Linked DNA regions of Homo sapiens: region 1 is linked to region 2. Evidence: fine-mapped expression QTL. A gene starts in region 2. The other region holds a variant in brackets. All regions are shown on one strand. Distances are from middle to middle. Region 1 overlaps TJP3 (tight junction protein 3). Region 2 holds the start of TJP3 (tight junction protein 3).

Evidence for each region.
Region 1: its variant is fine-mapped to the expression of TJP3 in whole blood (TOPMed, PIP above 0.99).

Annotation. Positions count from the first base shown.
Region 1 is chr19:3,735,148-3,744,621 of GRCh38, forward strand. TJP3 (tight junction protein 3) reads left to right here. Exons shown (of 21, transcript NM_001267560.2): 9 at 419-492; 10 at 722-788; 11 at 1,018-1,174; 12 at 3,408-3,516; 13 at 3,750-3,987; 14 at 5,405-5,616; 15 at 8,792-8,887. Among named protein-coding and RNA genes, the nearest start is that of APBA3, 22 kb to the right of the region's middle. RefSeq lists a silencer at 1,680-1,880. The variant A/G (reference allele first, on the strand shown) is at 4,528.
Region 2 is chr19:3,704,583-3,714,056 of GRCh38, forward strand. TJP3 (tight junction protein 3) reads left to right here and starts at 3,802. Exons shown (of 21, transcript NM_001267560.2): 1 at 3,802-3,979. RefSeq lists enhancers at 3,247-3,910, 3,911-4,572, 5,408-5,953, 7,967-8,468, 8,469-8,968.

The DNA of each region.
Region 1 (9,474 bases), 31 kb after region 2:
GAGCCACCACGCCCAGCCCAGATAAATTAAAATTATTTTTATTTTGTTTATTTATTTATTTATTTTTTTGGAGACAAGGTCTCACTCTGTCGCCCAGGCTGGAGTGCAGTGGCATGATCTTGGCTCACTGCAACCTCTGCCTCCCGGGTTCAAGCAATTCTCCTGCCTTAGCCTCCTGAGTAGCTGGGATTACAGGCGCCCACCATCATGCCCGGCTAATTTTTGTATTTTTGGAGAGACGGGGTTTAACCTCGTTGGCCAGGCTGGTCTTGAAATCCTGACCTCAGGTGATCTGCCCACCTCGACCTCCCAAAATGCTAGGATTACAGGCATGAACCACCGTGCCCGGCCTAAAATTCTTTTTAAAATGGCCCCTTGAAATCCATCCCTGCCTCACTCCCAATCTGTTCCCCACCAGGGAGAGTCCCCGGCTTCGGCGGGAAAGTTCAGTAGATTCCAGAACCATCTCGGAACCAGATGAGCAACGGTCAGGTGGGTGGTGACTCTGAGCACCCCTGTCCCTGACATTTCTGATCCCTGACAGCAAGGCTGTGCCAGGCAGAGCTGGGGGAGGTTGGCCTGAGCCTAAGTGGTGAGACATGGTTTCCTGAGAAGGACTCGAGGTGGGTGACAGTCCTTCCAGGATGAGGACATAAAGCAAAGGTTTGGAGGCTGGACTGAGCCAGTGTGCTTGGGAAAGAGACTGGCTTTTCCCTTTCAGAGTTGCCCAGGGAAAGCAGCTATGACATCTACAGAGTGCCCAGCAGTCAGAGCATGGAGGATCGTGGGTATGTACCCCAGAAGAAAGCAAACCCGCTCAAAACTCCTACATCCCAGGCTGCCTCCCTCATCAGCGCAATCCTGCCTGCTTGTATCCATTGTGTTGAGTGGGACCATTAAGTGGGGGTTTTGGGGAAACTGAGGCCTGGAGGGGGTGGGGGCTTTCCCAAGGACAATGCTGAGCCCTCCCTTTGTCCGCCCACTCTGCTCTGACCCCATCTCTGCCTCCCCTTGCAGGTACAGCCCCGACACGCGTGTGGTCCGCTTCCTCAAGGGCAAGAGCATCGGGCTGCGGCTGGCAGGGGGCAATGACGTGGGCATCTTCGTGTCCGGGGTGCAGGCGGGCAGCCCGGCCGACGGGCAGGGCATCCAGGAGGGAGATCAGATTCTGCAGGTGCTCCGGGGGCGGCTGGCCAGCCCCACTGATCATGGGCGTGCAGTGTGCTAGGTCCTGCCCTTGTCTGTTCCAGTCCTCCCCTTGGGTCCACCTGGGGACTGTCGAGACCCCAGATGGGTATTTGAACATTTCAGTGTCTCCTTGGCTGTGTCATGATTTTGCTGATGTCACGACCTTATCTTCCAGGTCATGACCTCATCGTCCAGTTACAACCTCCTTTTCTGTGCCTTGACCTTATCTGGGTTCATTTTTTGTTGTTGTTGTTTTTGAGATGGAGTTTTGGTCTTGTTGCCCAGGCTGGAGTGCAATGGTGTGATCTTGGCTCACCGCAACCTCTGCCTCCCAGGTTCAAGCAATTCTTCTGCCTCACCTCCTGAGTAGCTGGGATTACAGTTGTCCACCACCACGCCCGGCTAATTTTTATATTTTTAGTAGAGATGAGGGTTTCGCCATGTTGGCCAGGCTGGTCTCAAACTCCTGACCTCAGGTGATCCACCTGCCTCGGCTTCCCAAGTAGCTGAGATTACAGGCATGAGCCACTGCGCCTGGCTAACTTTTTTTTTTTTTTTTTTTGAGATAGAGTCTTGCTCTGTCACCCAGGCTGGAGTGCGGGGGTGTGATCTTGGCTCACTGCAACCTCCGCCTCCCGGGTTCAAGGGATCATCCTGACTCAGCCTCCCAAGTAGCTGGGATCACAGGTGGCCGCCACCATGCCCAGCTAATTTTTGTGTTTTTAGTAGAGACAGGGTTTCACCATGTTGGCCAGGCTGGTCTTGAACTCCTGGCCTCAAGTGATGCACCCGCCTCAGCCTCCCAAAGTGCTGAGATTATAAGCTTGAGACACTGTGCTCAAGATTGGGAACAACAATCTTGTTGTTCATGTCATATGACATTGTTCATGTGACATTCTTGTTATCAATGTCACAATCTCCTTGTTATCAATGTCAGGACTTTGGGTCACAGCCTCATTGCCTATGTCATGACCTTGTCTGGGTCGCAATCCTCTTGTTCCTGACATTGGCTGTGTTGACCGTGTCATGACCGTCTTGTATGTCCTAATCGTGTGGTCAGGTCACAGATCATTCTCTCATGATCTCCATGTCCACTTATAGTCATTTTCTGTGCCACCATCCCCTGTGTCTGTGTTGTGACCTTGCCTGTGTCCTGCCTTCATGACAGTGTCATAACTACCTCCAGGATCCACAGCCCCTCATCATCCCCCCATCTCTGTCCTTGCCTCATCTCATCCCCAGGCTGTCTCCCCTGTCCCTTGCGCGAGTTCACTCACCAAGTCTCACCCCCACTTTGCTCTCATGACCTTGCTTGTGTCTTGACCTTGCAGTGTGAGTTGTGATTCATGATGGAGTCACAGCTCCCCACTTTCCATGTCATAAGCCCACTGGCTGGGTGAAAACTTGATGCCAAATTGCCTGAGGGTCATGGTATTTTTTACTGTATTTCTACTCATTTTGCTTGTGGGATTCTAACCTTGACATCCACGTCATGACCCCGAGAGTAGGTGTCTGTGCCCACAAGCTGTGCAAGTATATTGCTGTCCCTGTTATGACCCTGAGAGCAGGTGGCTGTGTCTGTATATTGCTGTCCATGTCGTGACCCTGAGAGCAGGTGGCTGTATATTGCTGTCCATGTCATGACCCGGAGAGCAGGTGGCTGTATATTGCTGTCCATGTCATGACCCTGAGAGCAGGTGGCTGTGTCTGTATATTGCTGTCCATGTCATGACCCGGAGAGCAGATGGCTGTGTCCATATATTGTTGTCCCTGTCATGACCCTGGTGGTAGGCATCTGTGACCCACTGTGTGTCCATATATCGTTGTCCCTGTCACGACCCTGTGACTACTGTGACTACGTCTGAGTTCTTTTGAGCATTTCACACAGTTTCCATCGAGCTCCATGCCATGACCTCTGTTCCCATGTTTTGATATTGACAACCCACCATGATTTGGTTATCTGAGGACAAGTGCAGTGCCTGTGCCCGTTTCTGTGTCAAAACTCTTGTATCCTTACAATGCCACCAGCTGTCTGTGTCACACATCACACAGCCATAGGGTGATACCCCAGTCGGAAAGCCCTCGGGGAACTGCCGGGTCCCTTGGCAGCAGCTCTGGAAGCAGCTGGGGCTGAGTTTTGCCCAGAGGAAGGTCCAGGATCTCATGCACGCCCAAGAGGTACCAGAGCTTTTTCTATAGCTGCACTTGCTTTCTGGCAGGTGAATGACGTGCCATTCCAGAACCTGACACGGGAGGAGGCAGTGCAGTTCCTGCTGGGGCTGCCACCAGGCGAGGAGATGGAGCTGGTGACGCAGAGGAAGCAGGACAGTGAGTGCGCGTGGATATGGGTGTGCCTGTGTGTTGCGGGGGGAGGACCTGGCTGTGTGGCCTGGTGGTGAGTGCAGGGATGTGGTTGAATCTGCATCTCTGCACCCTCCATCCCTCTCCCTGGCCCCTACAGGGAGAGTGCCCCAAATCTCCAGCCAGGCCCACTCTCGGGTGGGGAGGGCTCAGATCAGGCAGCAGCCCAGGCAGCTCATGTGGCCTCCCGCTCTCCCCAGTTTTCTGGAAAATGGTGCAGTCCCGCGTGGGTGACTCCTTCTACATCCGCACTCACTTTGAGCTGGAGCCCAGTCCACCGTCTGGCCTGGGCTTCACCCGTGGCGACGTCTTCCACGTGCTGGACACGCTGCACCCCGGCCCCGGGCAGAGCCACGCACGAGGAGGCCACTGGCTGGCGGTGCGCATGGGTCGTGACCTGCGGGAGCAAGAGCGGGGCATCATTCCCAACCAGAGCAGGTGGGGACTGTGTGCTCCTGCAGTGGGGCACTTCTGCTTCAGCCTCAGTCTCCCCGTTAGAAATGGGCTCGATTGGGCTGGACGCGGTGGCTCAGGCCTGTAATCCTGGCACTTTGGGAGGCTGAAGTGGGCAGATCATGAGGTCAAGAGATCGAGACCATCCTGGGCAACATGGTGAAACCTCGTCTCTACTAAAAATACAAAAATTAGCTGGGCGTGGTGGCACATGCCTATAATCCCAGCTTCTTGGGAGGCTGAGGCAGGAGAATCGCTTGAACCTGGGAGGCAGAGGTTACAGTGAGCCGAGATCACGCCACTGCACTCCAGCCTGGCAACAGAGTGAGACTCTTGTCTCAATAAATAAATAAATAGGCATGATATCACTGCTTAGCAGTGTTGGTGGTTCAATCTGAGGAGGTCCACAAAAGGCTCTGGGCGGGCCCCATTTGGTGCTGGTATGAGCTTCCTGTTGTTGCTGTAACAGATGCCCAGAAACTTAGTGGCTTTAAACAACACACACATCCTCTTACAGTTCTGGAG[A/G]GCAAAAGTACTAAAGTCAAGGTATGGGCAGGCCTGGGCCCTCCCAGAGGCTCCAGGAGAAAACCAATTTTCCACCTTTCCCAGAGTCTAGAGGGGCCGCATCCCTCAGCTCGGGGCCCCTTCCTCCCCCTTCATAGCCACAGCACAGCCTCTTCTAGTCTCTCTCTGACTCTCACCCTCCCGCCTCTTCTTGTGAGGACCCTGTGAGGACATCGGGTCCCCTGGGTCACCCAGGATCATCATCCACCTCAATAGCATCAGTTTAATCCCATCTGCAGGCCAGGCACGGTGGCTCACGCCTGTAATCCCAGCACTTTGGGAGGCTGAGGCGGGCAGATCACGAGGTCAAGAGATTGAGACTATCCTGGCCAACATGGTGAAACCCCATCCCTACTAAAAATACAAAAATTAGCTGGGCGTGGTGGTGCATACCTGTAATCCCAGCTACTTGGGAGGCTGAGGCATGAGAATCGCTTGAACCTGGGAGGCGGAGGTTGCAGTGAGCAGAGATTGCACCGCTGCACTCCAACCTGGCGACGGAGCGAGACTCTATCTCAAAAAAGTAAATAAATAAATAATAAAGATTAGCTGGGCGTGGTGGCGGGCACCTGTAATCCCAGCTATTTGGGAAAGTGAGGCAGGAGAATCGCCTGAACCCAGGAGGCAGAGGTTGTAACGAGTCCAGCCTGAGTGACAGAGCAAGACTTTGTCTCAAAAAACCCAAAATAATAATAATAGTAATAATAATCCCATCTGCAGAGTCCCTTTTGCCATACAAAGTGGCCTGTCCACAGGCTCCGAGGGGTAGGACGAGGACGTCTTTGGGGCCACCATGCTGCTGACCCCAGTGCTCAGTACTGTCCCCTCTTCTCCCCAGGGCGGAGCAGCTGGCCAGCCTGGAAGCTGCCCAGAGGGCCGTGGGAGTCGGGCCCGGCTCCTCCGCGGGCTCCAATGCTCGGGCCGAGTTCTGGCGGCTGCGGGGTCTTCGTCGAGGAGCCAAGAAGACCACTCAGCGGAGCCGTGAGGACCTCTCAGCTCTGACCCGACAGGGCCGCTACCCGCCCTACGAACGAGTGGTGTTGCGAGAAGGTGGGGCCCGGAGCTGGAGGGGCCCTGGGGAGGCCTCACACACAGCTCCTGGTGCACCTGTTCACTAACATTCAGCCTCTAAAAGGCACAGTCTTGGCCCGGCGTGGTGGCTCACGCCTATAATCCCAACACTTTGGGAGGCCGAGGTAGGAGGATCGCTGAGGCCAGGAGTTCCAGATCAACCTGGGCGGTAAAGCAAGACTACATCTCTACCTCAAATTTATTTATTTATTTATTTTTGTTTTTATTTTTATTTTTAGACAGAGTCTTGCTCTGTCTTAGGCTGGAGTGCAATAGCGTGATCTGAGCTCACTGCAACCCCTGCCTCCCTGATTCAAGCGATTCTCTTGCCTCAGCCTCCCAAGTAACCGGGATTACAGGCGCCCATCACCCCGCCCCCAGCTAATTTTTGTATTTTTAGTAAAGACGGGGTTTCACCATGTTGGCCAGGCTGGTCTTGAACTCGTGACCTCACGATCCACCCGCTTCAGCCTCCCAAAATGCTGAGATTACAGGCGTGAGCCACCACGCCCGGCCTCTACATCAAATTTAAAAAGATAGCTGGGCATGGTGGTGCATACCTATAGTCCCCGCTGCTTGGGAAGCTGAGGCAGGAAGATTGCTTGAGCTTGGGAGGTCGAGGTTGCAGTGAGCTATGATCGCACCAGCCTGGCCCACATGGTGAAATCCCATCTCTACTAAAAGTACAAAAAATTAGCTGGGCATGGTGGCAGGCGCCTGTAATCCCAGCTACTTGGGAGGCTGAGGCAGGAGAATCACTTGAACCCGGGAGGCAGAGGTTGCAGTGAGCTATGATCGCACCACTGCACTCCACCCTGGGCCACAGATTGACACTGTCTTCAAAAGAAAAAAAAAAAAAAGCATGTTTCTAACCACTCTCCTTCTATCAAAAATACTTTTGGGCCTGGGTGCGGTGGCTCACGCCCGTAATCTCAATGGTTTGGGAGGCTGAGGCAGGTGGATCACCTGAGGTCAGGAGCTCTAGACCAGCCTGGCCCACATGGTGAAATCCCATCTCTACTAAAAGTACAAAAAATTAGCTGGGCATGGTGGCAGGTGCCTATAATCCCAGCTACTTGGGAGGCTGAGGCAGGAGAATCACTTGAACCCGGGAGGCAGAGGTTGCAGTGAGCGGAGATCACACCACTGCACTCCAGCCTGGGCAACAAGAGCAAAACTCCGTCTCAAAAAAAACAAAAAAACAAAAAAATTTTGGGTTATTTTAGGGGACAGAAGGACAGGAAGGGGGTTCATTCCTTAAAAATCTATTTGTGTCTCCAACAGAAATATGGTGCAAGGCATGTAGATAGCCTTACAAAAGGAAAAAGAAATAGCAATAATAATAATTTTAATAATTTATCTTCTTTGACCGGGCGTGGTGGCTCACGCTTGTAATCCCAGCACTTTGGGAGGCCAAGATGGGTGGGTCACTTGAGCCCAGGAGTCTGGGACCAGCCTGGACAGCAAAGTGAGACTCTGTCTCTACAAAATAAAAAATAAATTAGCCAGGTGTGGTGGTACGCCAGTAGTCCCAGCTACTTGGCAGGCTGAGGTGGGAGGATCCCTTGAGCCCAGGAGGTCGAGGCTGCGGAGAGCTATGATCATGCTGCTGCACTCTAGCCTGGGCAACAAAGCCAGACTCTGGGGGGAAAAATGCCTCATCCTGATTTCAGGAAGGGAAGAGATTAAGCTCTTATCAGAGGACAGGGGGTTAAAAACCCAGGTGCAGCGATTTTCCAAATAAAACCACAAAAGGGGTGGGAAGAGCAAATTGCCCGGGACAGGGGTGGGTGGATGGACCTTGAGAAAAGCCTTTGACACTGTCATCGCGCTGCTCCAACATCCAGATGAAAACGTCCTAGAAATACAAGGCCACGGCCAGGCGTGGTGGCTCACGCCTGTAATCCCAGCACTTTGGGAGGCCGAGGTGTAATCCCAGCACTTTGGGAGGTGGGTGGATCACCTGAGTTCGGGAGTTCGAGACCAGCCTGGCCAACGTGGTGAAACCCCGTCTCTACTGAAAATACAAAAATTAGCCGGGCGTGGTGGTGGGCGCCTCTAATCCCAGCTACTCAGGAAGCTGAGGCAGGAGAATCACTTGGACCTGGGAGATGGAGGTTGCAGTGAGCCAAGATTAAGCCACTGCACCGCCAGCCTCGGTGACACAGCAAGACTCTGTCTCAAAAAAATAAGTAAATAGGCCACGTGCGGTGGCTCACGCCTGTAATCCCAGCACTTTGGGAGGCCGAGGCGGGCGGATCACGAGGTCAGGAGTTCGAGATCAGCTTGACCAACATGGTGAAACCCAGTTTCTACTAAAAATACAAAAATTAGCCAGGCATGGTGGCGCACGCCTGTAATCCCAGCTACTCAGGAGGCTAAGGCAGGAGAACTGCATGAACCTGGAAGGTGAAGGTTGCAGTGAGCCAAGATTGCGCCACTGCACTCCAGCCTGGGCCACAGAGCTAGACTCCATCTCAAAAAAAAAAGTAAATAAAATAAAAGAAAGAAAGGGAGAAAGAGAAGGATTAAGTTGCAAAGACCCTGGGCTACCACTTTTCTCCCCTCAAGACGCTTCTGTGACTGTTTCTTCAGTGGTAAAATGGTGTATCTGGTAGGCCAGGTGTCAACATACTTTTCCTGCAAAGGATCACATAGTAACTATTTTAGGCTTTGTGGGCTAGTCTCTGGCAGAACTACTCAGCTCTGCTCAAAGGTAGCCATAGACAGGACATAAAGAAATGGTTGTGACTGTGTTTTGATAAAACTTTATTGACGAACACATGCAGTGGGCCAGATGTGGCCCTCAGGTTGTAGTCTGCTGACCTATGAGTTAGCTAGGTTCAACTGCTAAAAAGAGACCCTACAGCCAGGAAGAAAGGGAATGAAGGCAGGAGAGGGGCTTATTCCTGCCCTTGAAGGCGGAACCCAGAAATGTACACATCAATTCTGCTAGTGTTCCATTGGCCATTATTTGGTCATAAGGCTAACCTAGCTGCAAAGGACACTGGGAGATGTAGTATTTGGCTGGGTAGCTATGGTCCTGGTTAAATAGGCTGTTTACTATAAGGAAGTGGAGGGGTTTGTACAACACACTAGCAGTCTTTGATCGCAAATGGGACCCTGATTCTTTCACTGTGTCTCTACCCCTCAGCCAGTTTCAAGCGCCCGGTAGTGATCCTGGGACCCGTGGCCGACATTGCTATGCAGAAGTTGACTGCTGAGATGCCTGACCAGTTTGAAATCGCAGGTGAGAAGCCAGATCCTCTGGAAACCTCGTTGGTGAAATAGTTTCACAACTGTTTTTTTGTGGGGGGTCGGGGGAGAGTTAGAATAATGATGGCAAACATGAAGCAGATGGGCCACCAGTGCCCCCCCCAATACCCAAGCCAGACATCCTCAATCCATCTTGGCACCGTTTGTCTGGATAGAACCTCCAAATCCTTCTTAACACAGTTCACCAGGTAGCCATTGCCAATTGAGGCAAAGTGCCACCTGTTATTTGTTTAAGAGAAATTTATTGATCTTCTGAGACAGCAGTGAACACGACAGGCAAGGTCCCTTGGAGAAGACTCCAAATTAACAACTGTAGAAACAATGGCCGGGTGCGGTGGCTCATGCCTGTAATCCCAGCACTTTGGGAGTCCGAGGCGGGTGGATCACGAGGTCAAGAGATTGAGACCATCCTGGCTAACATGGTGAAACCCCGTCTCTACTAAAAATACAAAAATTAGCTAGGTGTGGTGGCGCGTACCTGTAGTCCCAGCTACTCGGGAGGCTGAGGCAGGAGAATTGCTTGAACCCGTGAGGCAGAGGTTGCAGTGAGCCGAGGTCATG
Region 2 (9,474 bases):
CAGCACTTTGGGAGGTTGAGGCAGGTGGATCGCCTGAGGTCAGGAGTTCGAGACCAGCCTGACCATCACGGAGAAACCCTGTCTCTACTAAAAATACAAAAATTAGTCGGGCATGGTGGCGCATGCCTGTAATCCCAGCTACTTAGGAGGCTGAGGCAGGAGAATTGCTTGAACCCGGGAGGCAGAGGTTGCAGTGAGTCAAGATCTCGCCATTGCGCTCCAGCCTGGGCAGCAAGAGCGAAACTCCTCTCAAAAAAACAAAAATAGCCTGGCATGGTGGTGCACACCTGTAGTCCCAGCTACTTGGGAGGCTGAGGTGGGAGGATCGCTTGAGCCCAGAAGTTTGAAGCTGCAGTGAGCTATGATCACACCACTACAGTCCAGCCTGGGCAACAGAGCGAGACCTGGTCTCAAAACAAACAATGAAAAGTAAAAGAAATGCAGGTTCCTAGGCCCCCACCCAGACTTCACACACCAGAAACTGGGCAGAGTAGGGTGGTGGGAGGGCACAATCTGGGTGTTCATGACTCCTCCCTTCCAGGCAAACTGGGTGCCAGATAAAGTTTGGGGGAAGGGGCCAGCCACGGTGGCTCATACCTGTAATCCCAGCACTTTGAGAGGCCAAGGTGGGCGGATCACTTGAGGTCAGGAGTTCGAGACCAGCCTGGCCAACATGGAGAAACCCCATCTCTACTAAAAGTATAAAAATTAGCCAGGCGTGGTGGCATGCGCCTGTAGTCCCAGCTACTTGGGAGGCTGAGGCAGGAGAATCACCTGAACTCAGGAGGCAGAGGTTGCAGTGAGCCGAGATTGCACCACTGCACTCCAGCCTGGGCGACAGAGCGAGACTCTGTCTCAAACCAAAGAAAAGGAAAAGAAATGCAGTTTCCCAGGCTCCAACGCAGACTTCACACACCAGAAACTGGGCGGGGTGGTGGGGGTGGTAAAATCTGGGTGTTCATGACTTCCCCCTTCCAGGCAATTTGGATGCCAGATAAAGTGGAGGAAGTGCTGGAGGTTAGATCATTGATGAGGATAATGAAGAGGAAATATACTTAAAAAAAATTACTAAAACTGGCTGAACAGTCATGACTTACAGACGCAAAAGTCAACATCAAAACAAGCAGTTAAAAGCAGCCTCTTGGCCGGGCGCGGTGGGTCACGCCTGTAATCCCAGCACTTTGGGAGGCAGAGGTGGGTGGATCACCTGAGGTCAGGAGTTTGAGACCAGCCTGGCCAACATGATGAAACCCCACCTCTACTGAAAATACCAAAAAAGTAGCCAGGCGTAGTGGCACATGCCTGTAATTCCAGCTACTCGGGAGGCTGAGGCAGGAGAATCGCTTGAACCCGGGAGGCAGAGGTTGCAGTGAGCCGAGATGGCGCCACTGCACTCCAGCCCGGGAGACAGAGTGAGACTCCGTCTCAAAACACAAAAACAAACAAACAAACAAAAAACTTAAAAAAAAGAAAACTAGGGCAGGGATGGGGTGACAGGAGGGGAGAGGCAAGGGACAGAGAGGAGGGGCTGGGGTCCGGGAGAGCCACCAGCCTTCTGTGCCTTCCCCGCATCCCCCCACGCCCCTGGTTGGCTGTCCCCATTACGCAGGGTGGAAAACCGAGGCTGCCCGGCGGGGGCCGGTTGCGTGGTTTCTGGCGCCGCCTGGTGGCCATAGTGGCTACTACCGTCAGCAGGAGGTACTGCAGGCTGGAGGGACCCTAGTCCATTCATTCCAAAAACATGTATTGAGCACCTACTGTGTACCAGGCACTGTGCTAGGCCATAGGACACGGCAGGGATGAGCACGACAAAGTCCATGACCTCTGTGAGGTGGCATTTTAATATTTATTTATTTATTTTTCAGCCAGCGTCTTGCTCTGTCTCCCAAGCTGGAGTGCAGTGGCGCGATCTCGGCTCACTGCAACCTCTGCCTCTGGGGCTCAAGCGATTCTCCCGTCTCAGCCTCCTGAGTAGCTGGGATTACAGACGCATGCCACCTTGCCCGGCTAATTTTTGTATTTTTAGTAGAGATGGGGTTTCACCATGTTGGCCAGGCTGGTCTCGAACTCCTAACTCAAGCAATTCTCCCACCTCAACCTCCCAAAGTGCTGGGATTACAGGGGTGAGCCATTGAGCCCAGACTTAATTTTTTAAATTTTAATTTTAATGTACTGGTAAAGATGGGGGGGTGTCTCACTATGTTGCCCAGACTGGTCTCGAATTCCTGGCCTCAAGTGATCCTGCCACCTTGGCCTCCAAAGTACTGAGATTATAGGTGTGAGCCATCATGCCCAACCCTTCCTGGTTAATTTTATTTTATTGAGATAGGATCTTGCTCTGTCACCCAGGTTGGAGTGCAGTGGCACAGTCATAGCTCTCTGCAGCCTCAACCTCCCAGGGTCAATTGATCCTCCCACCTCAGCCTCCTGAGTTTCTGGGACTACAGGTGTGTACCACCACATCTGGCTAATTTTTAAAAAAGTTTTCTGGGCTGGGCGTGGTGGCTCACGCCTGTAATCTCAGCACTTTGAGAGGCCAAGGCAGGCGGATCACCTGAGGCCAGGAGTTCAAGACCAGCTTGGCCAATATGGTGAAACTCCGTCTCTACAAAAATACAAAAATTAGCTGGGCATGATGGCTGGTGCCTGTAATGCAATCCCAGCTACTCGGGAGGCTGAGGCAGGAGAATCACTTGAAACCGGGAGGCAAAGGTTGCAGTGGGCCGAGATCAAGCCATTGCACTCCAGCCTGGGCAACATAGCAAGACTCTGTCTCAAAAAAATAAAAAAAAAATAAAATAAAAACAAAAAACAAAACAAAACCAACAACAGCCAGCAGCAACAACAAAAAAACTTTTCTAGGCCAGGCTCGGTGGCTCACGCCTGTAATCCCAACACTTTGGGAGGCCGAGGCGGGCAGATCACTTGAGGTCAGGAGTTTGAGACCAGCCTGGCCAACATAGGAAAACCCCGTCTCTACTGAAAAAAAAAAAAAAAATTAGCTGGGCGTGGTGGTGCACGCCTGTAATCCCAGCTACTTGGGAGGCTGAGGCAGAAGAATCACTTGAACCCAGGAGGCGGAGGTTGCAGTGAGCCGAGATCGCGCCACTGCACTCCAGCCTGGGTGACAGAGGGAGACTCCATCTCAAAACAAACAACAAACAAAAGATATATAAAAATTTTTCTAGAGATGGGTTTCACCGTGTTACCCAGGCTGGTCTCAAATTCCCAGGCTCAAGTGATCCTCCCACCTCGGCCTCCCAAAGTGCTGGAATTACAGGTGTGAGCCACCACACCTGACCCTTTCTTGTTTTTTAGATGAGGACAGCAAGAAGCCCCTGTAATTTGCCCAAAGCCACACAGCGGGGAAGTGGCAGAAGCTTCTGTACGTAGGAACCCAGTCACTTCGTAGCAGAGAGGCAGACTGCGCACAGATCTGCGTGGGGAAGGGAGTGCGCCAAGCCACAGCCTGATGGGCCGGCGTGCCTGGCAGGAGGCTCAGCAAGCACAGAGACTGGGCAGCTCCAGATGCAAGAAGCAGGAGGGAGGGGGACTCCGGGAGTGCGGTCCATTCATGTCTGAATGTAGCCAACGAGGGTTTCCTAAGCACCTACCATGTGCGGACGCTTGATACCAGGGCCTCGGCGGTGAGGGCACAGGCAGGAGCAAGCTCACCTCTGGGCAAGCAGGGGTTAAGGCCAGTTGCTCCCACGTGAGGGCACCTTGCGACAGAGCCACACACCCAGTCCTCCTGCTGGCCCGCCCCTCACCCTGGTCCGTCTCCCTGTGTCTGTGGTCGTCAGTTCCACTGGCAGGGGACCTGCCTCCCTGTTGCCACCACAAGAGAGGAAAAGTTGGTCAAACAGGTGGGGAGGCCAGAGCTACAAGCCTCGGGTTCCCTCCCCACCACCCGTGCCAGGCAGGCACCCGGGCCCTGGCACCTGCTGCCTGCCCAGAGGCCACCCAGCCTCCTAGACAGGTAAGTCCCCCGCCCCACTGTGCTTTTCCACCCAGTGTGCATTGTCTGAGCTGGCCTTCCCCAGCTGAGGGTCCTTAGACTCCCCCCCAACCTCCCCCACCACGAGCTGTCTCCCCGGCTCCTCGGAAAGCAGGAAACTGACACTCCTGCGTGGGCATCTGACATAGTTTCGTAGGGATTATCTGACCGGCAGTTACTGCACCTGGCGGCCTGCCCAGGACGCTGAGCTGGAAACTTAAAAGGGTCATTGTTACCTAGGTGGCGCAGGGACCGGGGAGGCGGCAAAGGGGCACAGGTTGGTCTCTGATCCCCCTAACTGAGGAGGGGAGGGGATATCAGTCCAGACGGAGCCTGGGTTTACCTCCTGCAGCCCGAGGCTAGGAGGTGACAGGTGGGAAAGGCTGCGACCTCACTCATCTCTGAGCCTCCTGGAACTTCTTAAAAGGCTCCCAAGTTTTGAAACAACTGCGTCTCCCGCCCCCCAACCCCTCACCCTGTTCTCACCGCTGGAACCTCCAGGAGCTTTGCAGGGAGGGATTGGGGTGGCCTTTCTTTTGCTAATTTTTTTTTTGAGACGGAGTTTTGCTCTTGTTGCCCAGGCTGGAGTGCAGTGGTGCGATCTTGGCTCACTGCAACCTCTGCCTCCACCTCTGCCTCCCGAGTAGCTGGGATTACAAGCGCCCACCACTATGCCCAGCTAATTTTTGTATTTTTAGTAGAGATGGGGTTTCACCATGTTGGCCAGGCTGGTCTCGAACTCCTGACCTCAGGTGATCCAACCCCCTCGGCCTCCCAAAGTGCTGGGATTACAGGCGCAAGCCACTGCGCCCAGACTTCTTTTTCTAATCTTTACTCCTCCGAGCAAAATCTCTGTGGGATGGGGCAGAGGGGAAGGAGGAAGGAGCGCTCAGAGCCAGAGAGGGGAGGGGTCGGCAGCAAAAGTGTTTTTCTGGGTCATTTGCTCCCAAATGGGAAGACCAAGGGAGCTTCCTCGTGAGCCAAGTGTCCGATTGCATCTCAAGTCTCTCTCCAGAACCAAGAGGGTCCCCCGGGGCCGAGGAGGCATGGATGATCGCATAGTGGGGGACAGAGCGGCCCGGCATTTGGGGTCACCTTGTGGCTGTGTGGCTGCAGAGCTCCCAGGGAGCAGGCTTGCTTGAGATTCGGGAGTCCGTGGGGGTGGGCGACATGGATCCCACCTTGCCTGGGTTTTGAGAGCAAACCCGTGGACTCAGTTAGATCTGGCTTCCACACCTCCCTTCTCTCCGGGCCTCTGTTTCCTGCTCTGTAAAATGGGGATATTGAGGGCCGGGCGCGGTGGCTCACGCCTGTAATCCCAGCACTTTGGGAGGTCGAGGCGAGTGGATCACAAGGTCAGGAGTTCGAGACCAGCCTGGCCAACATGGTGGAACCCTGTCTCTACTAAAAATACAAAAAATGAGCCGAATATGGTGGCAAGCACTTGTAATCCCAGCTACTCCGGAGGCTGAGGCAGGAGAATTGCTTGAACCCAGGAGGTGGAGGTTGCAGTGAGCCGAGATTGTGCCACTGCACTCCAGCCTGGACAACAGAGTGAGACTCTGTCTCAAAAAAAAAAAAAAAAAAAGGGGTGGGGGGATATGGAGTCACCAAGGCACAGGGCTGTTGAGTGCCGGATGTAATAAAGCGGGTAACAGATTCTCGGTCATTCTGGGGTCAAGACGAGCTATCCCGGTCCGAATCGGAGTCTGGTCTCATCAGCTTCCTGGTTTGTAGAGGATGAACCCTGGCTCAGAGAAGGACAGCCGCTTACCCCGGGCCGCACAGCCAAGTAGAAATGTCAGGCGGCCAAGAGTCAAGACGCAGAGGACAGGGAGCTGGTGGCGGGGGTGGTGCTCTGGAGGCTGGCCCTGCCCCCAGCTGATGCCTCAGGCTCAGCATCTCGAGAAAGTCCTGCCCCCTGGCTTGGTGCTTCCTCGTGGCCCTGAGTCCCGGGGAAAGTCCAGGGCAGGGAGTATGGGTACTTGTTCTTCCTCTTTAGGGCTGGCCAGGGGCCAGGGGAGCTGTGTTTGCTCAGGGTGGAACCTGACACCCTTTGGAATGGATTGAGGTTAGCGGAAGCCTAGGCTGGGGGGAGGGGTCGCCCAGGGAGCGAACGGGCATTTATTGTGCACTTACTGTATGCGCGAGTGTGGGGTCACCAGGCCTTGGAGATTCAGCAGTGAGCAAGGCAGGCCAAGCTTCCTGCTCTCGTGGGGCGCATATTTTGGTGGGGAAAGACAGACATGAAACAAGAGCGCAGTAATGGAGCCAATGGCTGCACAGAGGGTAACATGCGTGAGAGGCGCTTTGTAACTTTATTTTACTTTTTATATTTTTTTGAAACGGAGTCTCGCTCTGTCGCCCAGGCTGGAGTGCGGTGGCGCGATCTCGGCTCACTGCAAGCTCCGCCTCCCGGGTTCACGCCATACTCCTGCCTCAGCCTCCCGAGTAGCTGGGACTACAGGCGCCCGCCACCACACCCGGCTAATTTTTTGTATTTTTAGTACAGACGGGGTTTCACCGTGGTAGCCAAGATGGTCTCTCCTGACCTTGTGATCCGCCCACCTCAGCCTCCCAAAGTGCTGGGATTACAGGCGTGAGCCACCATGCCCGGCCTTATTTTATTTTTTTTTGAGATGGAGTCTCGCTCTGTTGCCCAGGCTGGAGTGCAGTGGAACGATCTCCGCTCGCTGCAACCTCCACCTCCTGGGTTCAAAGCGATTCTCCTGTCTCAGCCTCCCAAGTAGCTGGGATTACAGGCGCCCACCACCACGCCCAGCTAATTTTTGTATTTTTAGTAGAGACAGGGTTTCACCGTATTGGTCAGGCTGGTCTCGAACTCCTGATCTCAGGTGATTCGCTCGCCTCGGCCTCCCAAAGTGCTGGGATTACAGGCGTGAGCCACCGCGTCCGGCCAAAATGAAGGGAGAGCTTTAAATGCTGGCCTGAAGACATTTGGCTTTATGATATTAAAGGATATTTTTTCCCAAAATAGTAAAATCATTACTCTCATACAAATACAAAATGAGGCCGGATGCGGTGGCTCACGCCTGTAATCCCAGCACTTTGGGAGGCCGAGACGGGTGGATCACGAGGTCAGGAGTTCAAGACCAGCCTGGCTAACATGGTGAAACCCTGTCTCTACTAAAAGTACAAAAAAAAAAAAAAAGGTGCTTTATGTGTCTGCTTAATTCATTAATTAATATGGGAACCGGTAAGACTTTATAGCCTATACAGAGGGGAATTAATTTGTTTCCTTTCTTTCTTTTTTTTAAAAATTGAAAATAGAAATGGGGTTTTGCTGTGTTGGCCGGCCTGGTCTCGAGCTTCTGGGCTCAAGTGATCTGCCAGCCTCAGCCACTCAAAGTGCTGGGATTTCAAGCGAGAGCCACCGACCCGGCCTCAGCATTCTTGATTGCCTGTGTGTGTGTGTTCTTTCAGTTCTCCTCTGGACCAGACACGGTGGCTCACGCCTGTAATCCCAGCATTTTGGGAGGCCAAGGCAGGTGGGTCACTTGAGCCCAGGAGTTTGAGACCAGCCTGGCAAACGTGGTGAAACTCTGTCTCTACTAAAAATACAAAAATTAGCCAGGTGTGTTGGCGTGTGCCTATAATTCCAGCTACTTGGGAGGCTGAGGCAGGAGAATTGCTTGAACCTGGGAGGCAGAGGTTGCAGTGAGCCGGGATCGCACCACTGCACTCCAGCCCCAGAGACAGAGCAAGACTCCATCTCAAAAATGTCATTCCGTGCCCAGAATGACAGCACCTTAGCGTAGATGGTTTCCATGGGGCAGGGGGCCCCCTCTAGCCCTGGGACACTGTAATTCACCTTTGGCTTTCCCACTGGGGGCCCGAGTGGAGTTAGAAGCATGGAGAGGCAGCCCAGGGGATCCTTAGTGGCAGATGCTTAAACCTTTGAGCCTTCCCTGAAATACTGCTCAGGGTCAAAACCGGGATCCCCGTTTTACAGATGAGGAAGCTGAGGCAGGGGCTGGAATTCACATGGGCTCTGCTTTTCTCTCTCTGCTGTGGAACTTCCTTCTAGAGCTCAGCCGTCCTCCCTTTTGGGGGAAATGGCATCTTTGGCATGGCTTGGTGGCTCCCGCCTGGAATCCCAACATTTTGGGAGGCCGAGGTGGGAGGATCGCATGAGCCCAGCAGTTCAAGACAGGTCCGGGCAACATAGCGAGATACCGTCTCTACAAAATATACAAAAATCTGCTGGGCAGGGTGGCGTGCACCTGTGGCCCCAGCTACACAGGAGGCTGGGGTGGGAGGATCGCTTGAGCCCAGGAAAGTGGAGGCTGCAGTGAGCTATGATTGCACCACTGCACTCCAGCCTAGGTGACAGAGCAAGACTCTGTCTCAAAAAAAAAAAAAAGAAAAGAAAAGAAAGTCCCCTGTTGAACACCCTGAGCTGCATTCCATACTCCAAGCTTCTAGCAGGTTCCACACTCCTCCTACTTCAAAGTGCCCCCCATGAGTCCTACTTCAAAGTGCCCCCCATGAGGTCCTCCAGCCTCCCCAGGACGCCAAACCCTGAGACGTTCTTCAGCCCTCCAGTGCCTTAGGGCTGAGCCGGCCACACCTAGAATCTGCCCTTCCTCAAAGGTCGTTTGGATCTTGGCAACCCACAGACCGGGGCGTCTCCTCCCACCTGGCTGCCCTCCATCTCTGCTCTCTGTCTCTGCTCCTGCCCCGTCCTCTCCACACGGCTTCCTTAAAACCTCCCAGGGTCCCCCAAAACCCATGACGCCAGTCTAGTCATGAGGGAAACAGCTGGTCCCCAATGTCCCCACATTGAGAGTTATTCTGCAAAAGACCTGCCCAGCACAGACTAACAGGTCACAGAACAGGAAAGACAGAATCGGTCACAGCCCAGCGGTGTCTAAGGAGACGTGACAGCCAACTACCAGGTGGGATCCTGGATGGGGCCCTGGGGCGGCAAAGGGCCTGCGGAGAGACGTGAATAAAGTGTGGAGTTCAGTGAACAAGGTTGTACTGATGTTGACTTCTTGGTTTTGACATATGTACCCGTGTAATAATGTTAATGTTAGTGGAAATCAGTTGGGTGTATAAAGGAATTCTCTGTGTATTTACTTTTCTGTAACTTTAAAATTATTATTATTATTTATTTATTTCTTTTTTTGAGACAGAGTCTCGCTCTGTCGCCCAGGCTCTGGAGTGCAGTGGCACGATCTCGGCTCACTGCAACCTCCGCCTCCCAGGTTGAAGTGATTCTCCTGCCTCAGCCTCCCGAGTAGCTGGGACTACAGGCGCCCGCCAACATGCCCAGCTAATTTTTTTTTTTTTTTTGTATTTTTAGTAGAGACGGAGTTTCACCGTGTTGGCCAGGATGGTCTCCATCTCTTGACCTCGTGATCCACCTGTCTCGGCCTCCCAAAGTGCTGGGATTACAGGGGTGAACCACCACGCCCGGCCTATTATTATTACTATTATTTAATTTCTTTGTT